Homo sapiens: one gene and its partner. The protein of the gene in region 1 interacts with the protein of each later gene in a pairwise test. Each region holds a gene or a part of one and is shown on either strand. Other genes may lie near its edges.

Region 1 (7,417 bases):
CCAGAGTCTCCTCCCTTAGGACACCAGTGGGACTCTAGAAGGAACACTATCACCGTGTGACTCACGTCATCTGCACACATAATTAGGAATCCCCTGCACAATTAACATGCCAGGTGGATTTGCATTTTTTTAAAGGAGGCTTTTAATCCAAAAAAATATTTATAACCTAGAGAGTGGAATGGGGAAGGAGGATGCTTTTTAATCCTGGCTTTCACCCAGATCCAAGCATCCCAAACCCAAATAAGCACTCACTGCCACAATGATCCCCACTCCTAAGTAGAAATGGAATTTTAGCTGTGCCTTGCTAGCACTAAAATTAACACATTGTAAGATAAAATAATTTAATTTAAACTGGGCAAGGAAGAAAGGTCATGCTCTCTGCCTCTAATGAAAAGCACCTCTAGAATTCCACCCCAAGCGTTCAGAGAGCGACGTCAACCAAGGAGGCCCACAAGTAATGCAGCGGATACTGAGAGGACCTCTCTCATCTCATAAGCTAGAGAAACTGTTACCAAATGGCTTAAAATAGCGGTTTCCAAGTTTGTTTTCCTTCTTTCATATGTATTCTCACTAGAAAAACACCCAACCCCTGTGCCTTGTCCATATTTGGTGCTCAAAAAACGTTAATTCCCAGCCTCCACCTGTCACCCTACTTTCCCTGGAAAGGAATGTTGGGATTAGGAGAGTTAGCTTTGCAGGCTTCTTGCTCTTAAGCCAGGGCTCATAACACCTTCATTTGTGGCAATAGCCAAGTCCTTAATAAGAATCATAAGAGTTGCATCTATTGAGAGATTTTTTTTTCAGTCAGGCACTAGGCTACATGCTTTACATATTTTTATCTCATTTGATCTCTACGACAACCCTCTGAGGTAGGTATTTTCAGTTATTATTACTGTTATTAGAGATATTTTGTGAATTTTTTTTTTAATCTGAGCATTGAAGAAGTTAAGTAACTTGTCTGAGGTTCCCACAGCCCAGAAATGATAGAATGATAGAATGGGGATTCCATGCAAAGTGATCTGGCTCAAAAGTTGGGTTCTTATTCACCGTGCTGTATGTTTGTTATTATATGGGTTCAGATATTTTATGGTCCAGAAAAAAAGTGTCTGAATTATTATGATCTACTGACTCTCTAAACAACGTCCAGAAAAAGAACAGAAGCATACCCGTGCCATCTCATTTAGACATGCAAAGAAAGTAGCACATATTTCATGGAATTTGGGGACTGGCTTTTGAGGAATAGAGACTTGCTTATCATTCATCAACCAACTCGTTCTCCCAAGAGGAAGGCCACTTTAATTCCTGGATAATTGAAGGGCCTCCTTAAAATGAAGAAACCAGAGGTGGAGGTCTTACTGGTACCCCGAGCCACACGAACCTTTCTCTGCATAAATGATGTCCTAAGGGAAGACAGTAGAGGGCAAATGGAGGCCCACAGCCAGGCACAGGGATGCAGAAAGCAGCCCCAAGTGGGAAGAGGCCACGCTCGACAAGCTCCCTCTCACATGGAATTCTGCTGGTGCCGTGAGAGCCGAGGAAGCGCAGCCGCAGGGCAGAAGGAGACCAAGGACTATTGAATGGGGTCACTTCTCCCCAGTGCCTGCAAGGTCCTCGCTTTTGTGTCCACACCCTAACTGTCTAATCTGATTTCCTGCAATGTGTAAAACAAACTGTCTTCTCTTCTCCAGTGTCTCTTCAACTGGCCTTATCATCTCCAGGTCAGTCTCGCCTTTGTGCCTTTGCCCACAAGGTCCTCCCAGTCTGAAATCACCTGCCCCTTCTCCTTCTACCGACACTTCGCATTCTTCCAAAGCCCAGATCTTCCTGACAACTCCAGTTTGCCCCCAGGCCCCCTCCATGGAATTCACAGAACTCTTCAAGCCTGTGCTGCCCCACTCATCACTGAATTCTCATCTTGCATTGCTTCCTAAATTTTACTTCTTATCACAACTACCAGATTATAGGGTCCTTCAAAGTAGAGATTTTTAAAATATTTCTCTTATATCCTCCACGGCACCAGCTTAGAACCAATAAGGGGACACCAACTACTTGTTGCCTGCTTGAATACGTCAATGGCAACTTTCATTTAGTAAAGCACCTAAAACCGGTGATTTCCCAAACTTTGTTTAGTTACAACTCAGGCTACTGACTGGTACCTCGTAGCATATCTCCAAATCAAACCACCTCAGAAGAAAGATTAAATTTAATTAAAAAATACATGTTATACATCATAGAGCACTTTTGGGAAATGGTCATTAACATTGGCAATAGGTGAAAAACACAAGCTAGAAATTCCAGATTGAAATCTACATCATTTAGACTTCGGTTCTGTTTCTTTTCTGAACTAGACAACTTTAAAATTCATATTTGCACAACTTAGAGCATCTTTAGATTTACTTCATCAAACCTTGGGTAGTATTTAAACTACCCATACAGTTGAGCTCAGCCACAGTCACAAGCATATGCATTCTCTAGAATATCTGGAAAACCAAAAAGCCAACTATTGTAACTTTTCATGTTTCAAAAATCTTGTTAGGACTGTGGTGAGGGGCAGTGAATATCAAAGCAACACTCACCCCCCCGACCCCCGTCCCCCTGTAAATTGATTCTACACCTTACAGCAGGTAGCTCAGAGTCATTACGATGTTTGGCCTAGAGTAAAAGCTAAATAAAATTAGAAAAATTTCTTTTGACACCAAAGAAATACTTTTAAGGAAGCAAAATCCTTACCTGTTGCAGAATGCCGAAGAAATGTCTTGACAGTAAAATGACTGACTCCGGAAATCAAATTTGTTCAACAAAAGCAGGTGAAAACAAAAGCGGCCCAAGCCTTTTCACTGTGGTTGATTTCCTCATAGGATCAACCTCTCCCTCGTTCCCGAGAATATTAACTGATTCACACTGGAAGAACTGAAAATACAACAGTTGGGCTGGCAGGGAGTCCACCCCAAGATGGTTGGGTTAGTGTGTGTGGGGCAGCAGGAGCAATCCGAATGTGACAAAAGAGATTAGCAAGTTCCTGTGCCTAAGTCAATTTCCTGTAGCCGGCTTCTCCGCAGAGGGGGTTTCATTTGTGTGGGTTTAGGGGGGTGTGTGTGCACGTGCGTTTCTCTCCATTAGAATATGAAACTTCCCCAGATCAGAGGCAGAATAAGGCCTTTGCCGCACCGCTGGGTTTGCGTTTAATTTATCCCCCACCCTACTCCGAGACTATGTTTCTCTCCCCCTTAGCCCCATTTTCCTCCAGCAAAGCCCTACGTAAAACTGAAGAAAGGAAGACTGAAGAGTCCAAATGATTCCTCATGGAAGTAAAATTACCAAAAAAAAAAAAAAAAAAAGTCCATGCCACTGACCAATCTTGGTTAATTTGAGCTTAGGAAACAACACCTTAGAACTTTCCCCCCATCAGCTTGGGGAAAACAAGAGGTGGATTGTCTGCTTCGCTTTGCTGCATTAAAAACTATCAAATATTTTGCAAAGAACAGAGGCAGGCTTAGTGAGAGTTCGAGCAGCCCCCTGCCGTGCGTTCACCCCTGTATGGACGAGCACCTGGGCTGGGAGTTACCTGGCGATGAGTTGTTTTTTCAGACTCCTCAGAGTTTCATTATTTGCCTAAAAACACAAGTTTACTTGTTTTGTCCTAATGGGCAATCCAGGTGTAGAGACCATCTGCAACTACTTAGGTTATGGCTAAACGCCTAACCCAACAAATTGAACTTTTGTGATGTGGTCACAACCGCCTGTGCCCCAAATCCCTGAATAACTAACTGTTGATGCTACTGCTCACGGTGATAGCTTGGTCAAAATACCTGCCGACCGTAAGGATAAAGTCAACTCCATGCCTTTTATTTTATTTTATCAGTGCATCGGCCCCACACTCAAAGATTTGAGTTTAATTGAGCTGGGTTGGGACCGGACATCAATATTATTTTAAACCCCTCTGATTATTCTAAAGTACTGCTGCCACTCTAATGGATGAGAAGGAGGAAAGAACATTCCACGTAGAGGCAAATAGTATGTGCAAAGGCCCTGAGGTGGGAAAGAGGTTGGCATGTTCAAAGAAGTGAAAGCAGATGACTGTGCTTGCAGCATAGTTGTAGAGGGAATCAATGGTACAAGGTGAGCATTCTTATCAATAGACACCCAATTACCAAGTTCACAAGACTTCCACATGAACCCATGTGTCAATTTGTTAATGCACAGTAAGAACTCAATCTGCCAGCTGAGATCCTCGAGCCTTCTGAAGAGCACATTATCTCCTAGAAAATCCTCTGTGGGAGGCCAGGTGCAGTGGCGGTGGCTCACACCTGTAATGCCAGCACTTTAGGAGGCTGAGCGGGGAGCATTGCTTGAACCTAGGAGTTCGGGACCAGCCTGGGCAACGTAGTGAGATCCCATCTCTACAAAAATTAGCTGGGCAACCACACCTGTAGTCCCAGCTACTCAGGAGTCCGAGGCAGGAGGATTGCTTGAACCCATGAGGTTGAGGTTGCAGTGAGCTGTGATCCACCACCACACTCCAGCCTGGGGACACAGCAAGACCCTGTCTCGAAAAAAGAGAGAGAGGGACAGACAGAAGGAGGGAAGGGAAGGAAAAGGAAGAGAAGGGGAGGGAAGGAAGGAAGGAAGGAAGGAAGGAAGGAAGGAAGGAAGGAAGGAAGGAAGGAAGGAAGGAAAAGAAAGAAAGGAAAGAAAGGGAAAATCCTCTGTGGAAAGCCAGATCACCATGGTGATGTTATCAGCTGAGCAGAACATAAGCTTGTGGATATTTTCTTTATCTACTTCTGGTTTTGTTCATCAAAGGATTTAGAGCATCTGGCAAAAATACTTACACCTTAGCAAAATGAAACAATTAAAAACAAGAAATTTGAAAATGAGGCCAAGAGAAGTGAAGACAAAAATGACACTAAAACTGGGGGTGAGGTTAATTACAGAGAATGTATGCCACGTGGTTCTATGCTCTTCAGCAACTGGTATGAAGCAGGAAATATCACCACACAGAAAGCTCATTGCCCGCGGGAGAAACATAAACACATAGCTCAGAATCATGAGGTCTTCCTGGCTCCCCAGTGCTGAGATTAAAGAGAAACTTTGCCCCCTGGATTCCCATAGAGAAGACAACACGGCTGAAGTGAAACACCATGTTTAGACTCCACGCAGCCAGCCACAAGTCCGTGAGGTGGTTCCTTACGCTGTTCCTCCATATATGCTGATTGCATCTCACCGAAGAGTTTACTAAAAGCAACTCCAGGGTGTGCGGCAGGGAGAGTGCAGCAGGAGATTAGTAAGAATGTGCCACCCCACAGCACCACTTTGATGTTCCAGTTTTATCCAGAGATGAAAAATGACTTCATGGGCCGGGCGCAGTGGCTCACGCCTATAATCCCCACACTTTGGGAGGCCGAGGCAGGCGAATTGTTTGAGCCCAGGAGTCCAAGACCAGCCTGAGCAACATAGCGACACCCAGTCTCTAAAATAATACTAATAATAACAATGACAATAGGCCGAGTGCTGTGGCTCACGCCTATAATCCCAAAACTTTGGGAGGCCGAGGAGGGCAGATCGCTTGAGGTCAGGAGTTCGAGACCAGCCTGGCCAACATGGTGAAACCCCGTCTCTTCTAAAAATACAAAAATTAGCCAGGCACGGTAGCTCATGCCTGTAATCCCAGCTACTCGAGAGGCTGAGGCAGGATAATTGCTTGAACCCAGTAGGCAGAGGTTGTAGTGAGGCAAGATCATACCACTGCACTCCAGCCTGGGCAACAGAGTGAGACGTCAGCCTAAAAAATAATAATAATAATAATAATAAAGAAAAATGACTTCAGATATGCTTCAGAAAATTCAGGATAAAAAGTTTCTCTCATCCAAGTTTCTAAAAGATTTAAAGAGGCAAAGAGTTCAAAATTGGTTGCCCCTCCAACAGGAGATCCAGTGTCCTTTAAGGGGGACAATGTCTCCCCTTCAGAAAGCAGAGGAGTCAGACAAGGACAGCTGCCTGTATGGACAGATCCCCTCCATCTCCTAAGTAGAAGGGGAGATGAGGCTCTGCCCTTTGGGAAACAAAGCAAGAAACGCCACCAGCATGATTTATAACGAGCTCCAGGCCTCAGGCCTTGTACCATTTTCTGCACGAAAGTGGAGACGTACTCCAGAGTCAGGATGGACTGGGTGTGTCCCACCCCATCCTGGAAAGGACTAGGAAGGGCATTGTCATACCTGGCTGCGAGACCCCTGTCCCTTTCACCCCCTGGCTGACCACCCTTCTGCTTCTGAAGAACTGGTTTTCTGTGCCTGGAATTGCCAGTTTTAGATGATCTGGTACAGTCCAGCGTTGGGCTTCCTCCTGCTCCTGACCTACACGCCTCTAATCTTCACACAGTTTAATCTCAGAGAGGATTTTCTTAGGGGGAGGGGACAGGGGGTTGCCATCTAATTTTCTTCCTTCCTTGAAAATGTCTTTTTGGTGTTTCTCTCTTTCTCTCTCCCCACTCCCCTCCTCCCCCACCCCGCCCCTCCTCTCCTCTCTCTCTCTCTCTCTCTCTCTCTCTCGCTCTCATTCTTTTAACAGACTTTTAACCGACAGGGGTAGTGGTGAGGGGAGGAAGCAAACGCTGAAAATACATGCAAACATTCACAGACATACACGCACCCAAGCCCCAGGGCGTGTCCCTTCTGACGCTGTGCAGTCTGTCCTTGGGATGGGGTTGGGAGAAATCCTGGGGACTTCAGAGTGGCAGGAGGAGGGAAACCATGGGTCCACAGTTCGTAACTGGGAATCAGAGCCCCCCTCTGAGCCATCTTCCAGGAAGCCATCTGTAGCCACCACCCACCTCCATTGCAAGCCCAGTGAGGTGCCCTCCCAAGGGCTCCATAGCACGTCGTGTTAACACGGCCAGAGCACTCACCAAATGGCCCTGCAGTGTTCACTTCAGAGGTCCCAGGGCTCAGGGTCCAGCCTTGCCCACTCAGAAATCCAAGGTACTGAACAACCACTTTCTGACCAATAAATAGATTGATTCTCCCATCTCACAGCCTCACAGCTGCCCTTTATGGTAAACACTTTAAACCCTATTTTAACAGCCAAGGAAACAGAGACTTCAGCTGGTTAAATGATTTGCATAAGACCCTATGGCCTAAGAAAACCAGAACCAAGATTCACCCCATTCATCTGTCCTGGCTGTCACTCCCGCTGCCTCCCCACAGAGAGAACTGAACCACCGTGGGCAACGAGGAGCAGCCAGAGCCCCAAGGCCCATTTTCTTGGCCCTAAACATGCCCCCTCCAGGATTCCCTGTGCAAACGGTCCCCTTCAGGTCAAGGTGAAAAAGCAAAGACTTACTTTCTCAAAACCACCTTCATCAGAAATGTTCTCTGATATGGCAAAAGAACAGCTTACTTTAATATTCTCCTGTGAA
Region 2 (8,017 bases), on another chromosome or scaffold:
GTGGGGTGGGCCTGGGCAGGCTCCTGCATTCCCACCTCCTCTCCACAGCAGGGAGCTGAAACAGCTCAGGGGCAGGCCCAAGAAGTCCTGGCCCCCAACTCCCTGGGGAGGGAGCCCCTCCCCAGCCCAGCCCCAGCTCCAGGCTTGTGAGTCAGGGCCGGCTTGTTGAAACTGATACCCAGAAACCAGATGCGGAGGCTGATGAATAATGGAGTCTCCAAGGCAGGACCCCCGCACCCGGCTGTTCTCCCTCAGTATCACCTCCCCCAGCCCCAGAAAAGCAGATGGGAAACCAGGGATCCCCCAGGCATCCCTGCCCCACAACGAGCTGGGGCCCCAGCCTGGTCTGGGTGGGAGAGGGACTTCCCTGTCCAGGAAAGGACGCAGGTCTGGGGCCAGCTCCAGGCTCTGCCGACAGCAGACGGGCCTGGAACCAGGAGTCCGAGCTCTCTGGCTGGAGGGATGTCCTTGCCAGGAATTCCCACCAAGGCTAAGCTCCCCTGGGAGCCTGCTAGTCCCAAGGCCCCACCCAACACCTTAGAAATCCAGGGGTGGAGACTGCATGCATGGGCAGGCCAGCCAGGGCGGGGTGGCTTTGCCAGGCGGCTCTCTACGCTCCACCCGGCCTACCCACCCTCCTTTCCCCTAGGCCCAGGCCTCACCCATCACCCCTTGGGTTCTGAGGCTCACCTGGAGTCAGAGCCTGACCTAAGGCCCTGCCCTGTGCCGGGCAGATGGCAGGGACACAGAAAACCTCTCCCCAGGCTAAGCCCACCGCACGGGCCCTGGAAGCCAGGAAGGCCCCTTCCTCCCCAGGGAGCGGTCCTGGCTAGTATGCCCAAGGCTGGGACCCAGTGCTAGAGAAAGAGGGAGGGGCTGCAGTCTGTGAACATCCCCTCCTGCCCAGCCTCTGCAGTTCCCAGCCCCAGACCCCAGCGTGTGTCTTCGGAGCACCTGGACTAGCAAGCCCTTCCCCGGTGCAACTTAGAAGCCTCCTTGGTAGGGAGCGGGGGAAAGAGGGCACCTGCCTGGGCTTCAGAAGACCTGGTCTGGAGCCTACGTTCCCCCACCCTTCCCCTACTGGGCCTCAATTTGCCCACCTGTGCCAAGAGGGCATAGAATTCAGTATCTGGGGATGGCTGCCAGGTCCTAGTGTGTGCCCGGACCCCGGCTAAAGGGCAGGAGAATGGTAAAATACCCCCGAGCTCCCTCAACTTGAGGAGTTACTAAGGAATCTGCAGGGGACCTCTTGGCCTCCATTTCCCAGACTTCCACCAAGGCAGGCCAGGGCCTCCCCGGATTCACGGGTCTCCCGCATCCCCCACCCCTAAGTGGGTGCCTGGGTCTGCTCAGACTGCCCGAGGCGCAGCCTCTGGCGCCCCCTGCCGGCCTCGAGAGGGCTTTTCCGCCTGGGACCGACTCCGGGACTGGCCAGATGGGGAGGATCGGCTGAGCCTCCCAGCCACGCCGCGCGCCCGGGCCCCTCCAGGATCCCCCTGCCCCGCCAATACCCCCCATACCGGGGCCAGGGTCCCATAGACTCCTCACGGCCCTATCTCCGAGCCGACCCACCCTAGAGACACTGTGATGGGGGCGGGAGCTTGAACCCATTCCACCCTCACGTAAATGGAGATACAGCTGGTGAGGACCCTGTACCCACCCACAGGCCTGGCACTACGTGGGAATCTCGAATCCGGGTTCTGTCCATCGGTTTAGGGGGGTCCTGGCGCCTAGTCCCACCCCCCGTCCGGAGCGCAGCTCCCACTTCCCCGCGACTCACCTAGGAACAGGACCAGGGTCTCCTCCCCGGTGTCTAAGGCTCTAAGGCTCGGGCCGAGACTGCCAAAGCCTCATGGGGCGCGCGGGGAGAGGGGGACGGGAGCCGCGGGACGGGCTCAGTCGACTCAGCGCAAACTGGGGCGCGGGACGTAGGGGAATTACGGTAGCCGCGCGGGCGCTACCACCTGGACCGGCCGGGATGTACCAACGGCGCCGCCCGGCTGGGACCGGGGAGAGGAGGGGTCCCAGGAAGGGCCCCGCGCCGGAGCCAGGGAGGTGGCTGGAGGCCGGGCGGTGGCTTGGGGTAATCCAGGATCCGGGCTCAGGGGAGGGGGTGGGGGGCGTCACTGTCCCCGAGGGGCCAGCCCTTTGCAGATCTCCAAAAAGTTCAAAGTCCCTGGTCATTAACTTGGGCTTGAAGACGGGAGCTCGCCCATCCCGGAAGGGGGCTAGGGGGGACCAGGGCCCGCGACAGGAAGCCTCCGCGCGACAGAAAAGCCCCGGGGGACCAGGCAGAGAGACCCGCAGGCCTAGCCCGCCCCGGAATCGCCCTGAGCCAGGTTCGCTTCCGCTCTATTGTAAAAAGCTGGATTCTGATCTGCGGCCTCCGCGGTGCCCCAGAAACAGCCCGCTTTTCTCTGGGCCCCCTCTTTTTTTTTTTTCTGGCCCAGGTGATATGGCCGGAAAAGGGTGCTGTTCTGCCATTTAGTGGTTCCCAGTTCCCCTCTCCCAGCAGCGGGAGTTTAGAATAACTCTGGGCTCAGGACTGGGAAGGGTGTGGATACAGGGGGCCCACTCGAGGAGGTGGAGTTCAGGTCCACCAACCTGTTCCGCACTTTCAAGCTTTTTATACAGCCTTCCCCCGACCCCTTCCCAGGCCAAAACCTCCAGACTGCCCCACACAACCCTTGGGGCTGGGCCTATACTAGGGCAGCTCCTGGCTGGGCCAGGGATCCCCACGTCTTCACCTGCTCCCCCAAAACTACTTAGCCAAAACCCAGGAGTCCCCTTGCATTGTTTCTCTGGCCCTGCCCGTTTCTTCAGCTGCAGATAGCCCCACCACCTCTCTCCGGGGACCAGTCACTTCCAGAGATGGCCCAAACCTGGCCATTCCCTGGGGCATCCTGGTCTGCCGCTGCTCACCCCCAAAGCATTGCCCAGGAGAATAGGTGATTGCCTCTCCCATTACTCACATCCTGCCCGTCCCTTCTCCATGGGGGCCTCAGGTCCACCCTTTCCTCTCCCTGGTCTTCATCTCACCACCCCTCCCTCCACACACGCATACCCTGACTCATCCCTGCCACCTCACAGGCCATTGTTAAGCTGCAAGGGAACTCTGAAGTCCTCCCATCCAACCTCCACTCCACACTGCAATCCCCTCTACGCTTCCCTTTCTGTCTCTTCTTGCATATGTCTAGTGATGGGGTGCTCACTACCTCCACTTCGGGGATAGCTCCAGCTGCTGGAAACTCTTTCCTGTAGTGTGCTGAACCCCACCTCCCTGTCAAGGCCTTTGGGAGCTGTGCAGAAAAATTCACCTCCCTTTCCTCCTGAGAGTTCTGAGGAAATGGGAGGCTCTGACAGAGAGGCCTGGTTTGAGTCCTGATCTTGCCTTGCTTGGCAAGTCATTTTACCTCGCCACTCTGCAGGGCCCTCTCTAGGAAACGGAGATGGGGTAGGCCCCACCGCAGCGGGGGAGGCGGCCAGATGAGGTTTCTGTGCCAGGCGCTAAGGCAGGGCCTGGCATACAGTACGTGCTGGATCAATGGCGGCTGCTGGAATCACTACCTCCTCCATGATAAACACCCTCACATGTGGTGCCCAATGTCCCCTGTGGCCCAGGGCCACAAGTGTCCTCCTCCATGCCCCCTTGTGACCTGGGACGCCCTGACTAGACCTCGAACAGTGCCCAGTGGAGCCCAGCAAGGAGCTGGGGAGTCCACACACTGTCCCGTGGCCACCTCACAGGAGGGCAGGGGGAACCCACAATATCATTAGTCTGCCTTGATCTCCCGGCCTTTCTCCATCTCCCCAAACTCACAGCTCCACCTGTGTGCAAGAAGCTGGGATGGAGCCTGGGGAGGTCTCAGATCCCAGGGCAGGTACGGAGGGCACACCCAAAGTCTAGAGGTGACTTTGTTACCCCCACTCCCAGGACACCTTGCACACCTACGCTGTGCTAGGCTCTATGCTAAGCATGTTATATATGGGCCTCTTTTAATCCTCGCTGCCGGGTTATTTTCCAGATGAGGAACCTGGGGTTCAGAGAAGTGTAGTGACTTCCCCAGGGTCGCACAGCTGGAAAAAAGTAGGTTTGATCCTGGAGCTCAGAGGTGTGGACTGCTCTACATATCTTCATCCTGGGGAGGGGCCATTTCTCTCCTGGGGTCTCCATGACACACAGTCCAGACCCCTCATCTGGACATGCAGGTGCTCCTAGTGCAGCCTGCCTCCCCCTCCTCCCGTCCCCTTCTCCCTGTGCCCCCTGGCCTCGCTTGCCCCTTATAGCCCCCAATGTCCCCCCCTGCTCACTCAGCTGTCCTCCATCTCAGTACCTCTTTAATCCTCAGGACTCCAGTTGCCTCCAGGAAGCCCATCCTGGTTAGCCCTCCTCCCAGTGGGAACTCCAGGGGCAGGAGGTAGGGGACAGATGGCAAATTCATCTCAGAAGCTCCAGCACCCAGGAGAGCCTCAAATAAAACATCAAGGGTGGGCCCAGAAGCCGAAGGGTCCAGCCCTGCCTGAAATTGGTCCTTTGCCAGGGCAGCCTGGGGGGAAGTTTGGCCAGCCAGGGTCACTTCCCTTCCTTCCTCCCAGCACAGCTAGAATGTCACCTCCAGGAGGGCATCCCCTTTGTTCTCTGGAGATCTCCTGGGCCTAGAACTGGGCCTGGCACCGACAGATGCTCAGAGCTGGTCTGGTAAATGAATAAATGAAGTCATCTCCTTCAAAACGCTAGTCACATCCTGGAGAGTAAGAATAGGGCTCTTGATCAGACAAGCCTCACGCAGGCCAGGCTCTGACGATCATGCTGTGTGATGTGGGCAAGTTCCTCTACCTCTCTGGGCCTCCGTTTCCTTACAAGTCATGTGGTCATAAGAATAACGCTGTTCTCCTGAGGGTCTCAAGAAGCTTCACTGAGACAAGCAGGAGGGCCTAACGCCCCGCCTGGCATGTAAACATGTTCGGTCAGCAATAATTGTTATTATTATTATTATTGGGTGTTTTTTGAGACAGAGTCTCGCTCTGTTGCCCAGGCTGGAGTGCAATTGCGTGATCTCAGCTCACTGCAACCTCCTTCTCCAGGGTCCAAGCGATTCTTCTGCCTCAGCCTCCTAAGTAGCTGGGATTACAGGTGTGTGCCACCATGTCCGGCTAATTATTTTTTATATTTTTGGTAGAGATGGGGTTTCACCATGTTGCCCAGACTAGTCTCGAACTCCTGACCTCAAGTGATCTGCCCACCTTGGCCTCCCAAAGTGCTGGGATTACAGGCATGAGCCCCTGCGCCTGGCCTGTTATTTTTGAGACAGGGTCTTGCTCTGTTGCCCAGGCTGCAGTGCAGTGGCACAATCACGGCTCACTGCAGCCTCAATGTCCCAGGCTCAAATGATCCTCCCACCTCACCCTCCCCAGTAGCTGGAATTACAGGTACCCACCACCACACCTGGCTAATTTTTTTTTTTTTTTTTTTTTTTTTTTTTTAGACGGAGTCTTGCTCTTGTTGCCCAGGCTGGAGTGCAATGGCATGATCTCAGTTCACTGCAACCTCTGCCTCCCAGGTTCAGGCAATTCTCCTGCCTCAGCCTCCCGAGTAGCTGGAATTACAGGCACCCACCACCATGCCCAGCTAATTTTTATATTTATAGTAGAGATGGGGTTTCGCCATGTTGGCCAGGCTGGTCTCGAACTCCTGAGCTCAGGCAATCTGCCCGCCTTGGCCTCCCAAAGTGCTGGGGTTACAGGTGTGAGCCACCACGCCAGGCCTTTTTTTTAATTTTAGTAGAGAGAGGTCTCCCTATATTGCCCAGGTTGGCCTCAAACTCCTGGGCTAAAGCAGTCCTCCTGCCTCAGCCTCTCACAGTGCTGGGATCGCAGGTATGAGCAACCACACCCAGCCAGTAGTGGTTATTATTATCATCATCGACAATGTTATTCTTTGTTTCTCTTACCAAATCTGAGTGCCCCGCACCTCCTCTCCACCACTGCCTCTCCCTTCCTGGACTGCCCTTGCCTCTGTTCTGTCTATCCATGTTTTCACATCCATTAAAGGCCCCCTCCTCCAGGATGCCCTCCCTGACTGGCTCTCTATGCCTCTGATAATTCAGGCATTTCTGCCCCTACAGTGAGTCTGTGCCATTTGTCCCAAAGGGCGTCCCAGTAGTGACAGGGCCCAGACTCTCCCCGTGCACGCTGGGTGACCCTCATCAGCTGATGCCAATGTCAGCTGTGCCAAGTTCCAGGCAGGCCAGGGCTGGAGGTGAGGTCTGGAGGCTGCAGAGGGACCATACCCACTCTGAGACCAGCTCTCTTCTCCCAGGCCTCACCTCTATGAAGGCTGGGCCATCCCACCCCTGCCCCTGCCTGAGCAGCTTGAGGACCCCCCCTGAGAGCAGCTGCCCAGAGGAGGGGCTGGGACAGTGTGCCTTATTGCCCCAGCCGCCCCTTCAGGTCAGGCAAAAGCCTCGGGGCTCCGCAGGCCTCTGGCAGGATGTATATTGGGGGGAGCTGAGGCCAATTTGTTGCCAGGAGCCCCCATCTGGGAAAGAGGCAACCAGCCAACACCAGAGCCCAATGCCAGGCACCATCCGTGCCAGCAGATTGTATCTGACATCACACCGCCCCCCTGCCTGGTGACCACGGCAACTGGAGGCCGCCCCCTCCCCGCCCCGCCCCATAGCAGTTCTCCCTGTTCCCTCACCACGGCCCTCCTGTGCAGAACGAGTGTGTGTGTGTCTGGGTGGAGGTGCGGGAGGGGAGCGGGGGGTGGGGGGTGGCATTTTACATTTCCTGCAGCTGGCAGTGCTGAGACACATGATGGAAGACAACACGGGCCCTGGTATGACACAGACCTGGGTACTGGGTTCAAATCCCAGCTCTCCCACTTCCTAGCAGTCTGTCCCTGAGTGAGCCTCAGTTTCCCCATCTGTAAATGAGAATAAGGACAGGACCATCTCAGAAGGCCGGAGGAGGAGTCAGTGAGTCCTGGTGCCTGCGCCAGATGCTAAGTTGCGCAGTTGTCACTATTGTCATGTAAATGCATGCTGGGAGGGGCAAAACCTGGCTCCAAACCCCGGCTCCATCTCTCATGAGCTGTGGGCCTTGGCCAAGTCACTGGACCTCTCTGAACCTTGGTGTCTTCATCTGGAAAACGGGGTGACGATGCCTTCCCTGCAGAGCTGCCGCAATCAGTGCATATGGCACAGAAAGCGGGTGGCACTAAGCCCAGCACATCACAGGCAGAAGCGCCCAGCCAGTACTATTATCCTCCTTCCTGCCCCCTTTATCCCTGATTTATACTTCGCCCCACTCCCAGCTCCCAAGCCCTGGCACTCCAGGATCAACTGGCCCCTTCCTCCTTTTGTCATCCCCAGGGCCATGGTCACACTCGCCAAGTCCCAAAGCATCTCAGACCCATGCCCAGGCCTGAAGAGTGGCTGAGTTCAACAGGAAGGGTGCCATCTGGGCACTGGACCAGCACCGTGGGAGACCACTTCCCCTGGCTAAGCCTCAGTTTCCTCATCCGTGACATAAGGCTACAGCTCCTGTCACCTCAGAATGGCTGCTAGGACCACAGTGCAGCAAAGGGCTTTGGGGTACTCCACCCCCCTGTTCTTGTAGAAGTCCCCCGACTCCACTGTTCCTGAGCTGGGGGCAGGCCCTCTGCCTCCTAAACCAGACACACTGTGGCCCCACCTACACTTGAACCCAGCCCAGCCAGCCGCGCCCGTGCCAGGGCTCTGTGGATAGCTGGTGCTGGGATAGAAAGGGCAGTTAGAGCCCTGGCCCCTCTGCCCCCGAGGGTCCCCAGGCTCTCCAGCCTCCCTACCTTGGCCGCCCGCCCCTTGTCCATGCAGGCGGGGTTCTGACAGCGCAGTCCCTTCTTTTCAGCGGGGCTCTGGTCGTCTGCAGGGGAGGAGCAGAGGGCATCAGTCAGCGGGGCACCCAGGCTCCCCTGGGCCCCACTGGCCTCCCAACCGGAGGAGGGGTGGGGTGATCTCCTCAGTCCTCCCTTCAA

Evidence for each region. The genes of interacting proteins can lie anywhere in the genome.
Region 2: the proteins of RHOH (region 1) and PLEKHG5 interact in binary tests that used the Homo sapiens proteins (3 or more experiments, as listed by UniProt).

Annotation. Positions count from the first base shown.
Region 1 is NC_000004.12:40,192,614-40,200,030, reverse strand, and holds the start of RHOH (rho-related GTP-binding protein RhoH precursor), read right to left. Parts: upstream 3,001-7,417; 5' UTR 2,731-3,000; intron 1-2,730.
Region 2 is NC_000001.11:6,488,665-6,496,681, forward strand, and holds the start of PLEKHG5 (pleckstrin homology domain-containing family G member 5), read right to left. Parts: upstream 3,004-8,017; 5' UTR 2,973-3,003; intron 1,917-2,972; exon of another isoform or gene 1,781-1,916; intron 1-1,780. UniProt on the Homo sapiens protein: Functions as a guanine exchange factor (GEF) for RAB26 and thus regulates autophagy of synaptic vesicles in axon terminal of motoneurons. Involved in the control of neuronal cell differentiation.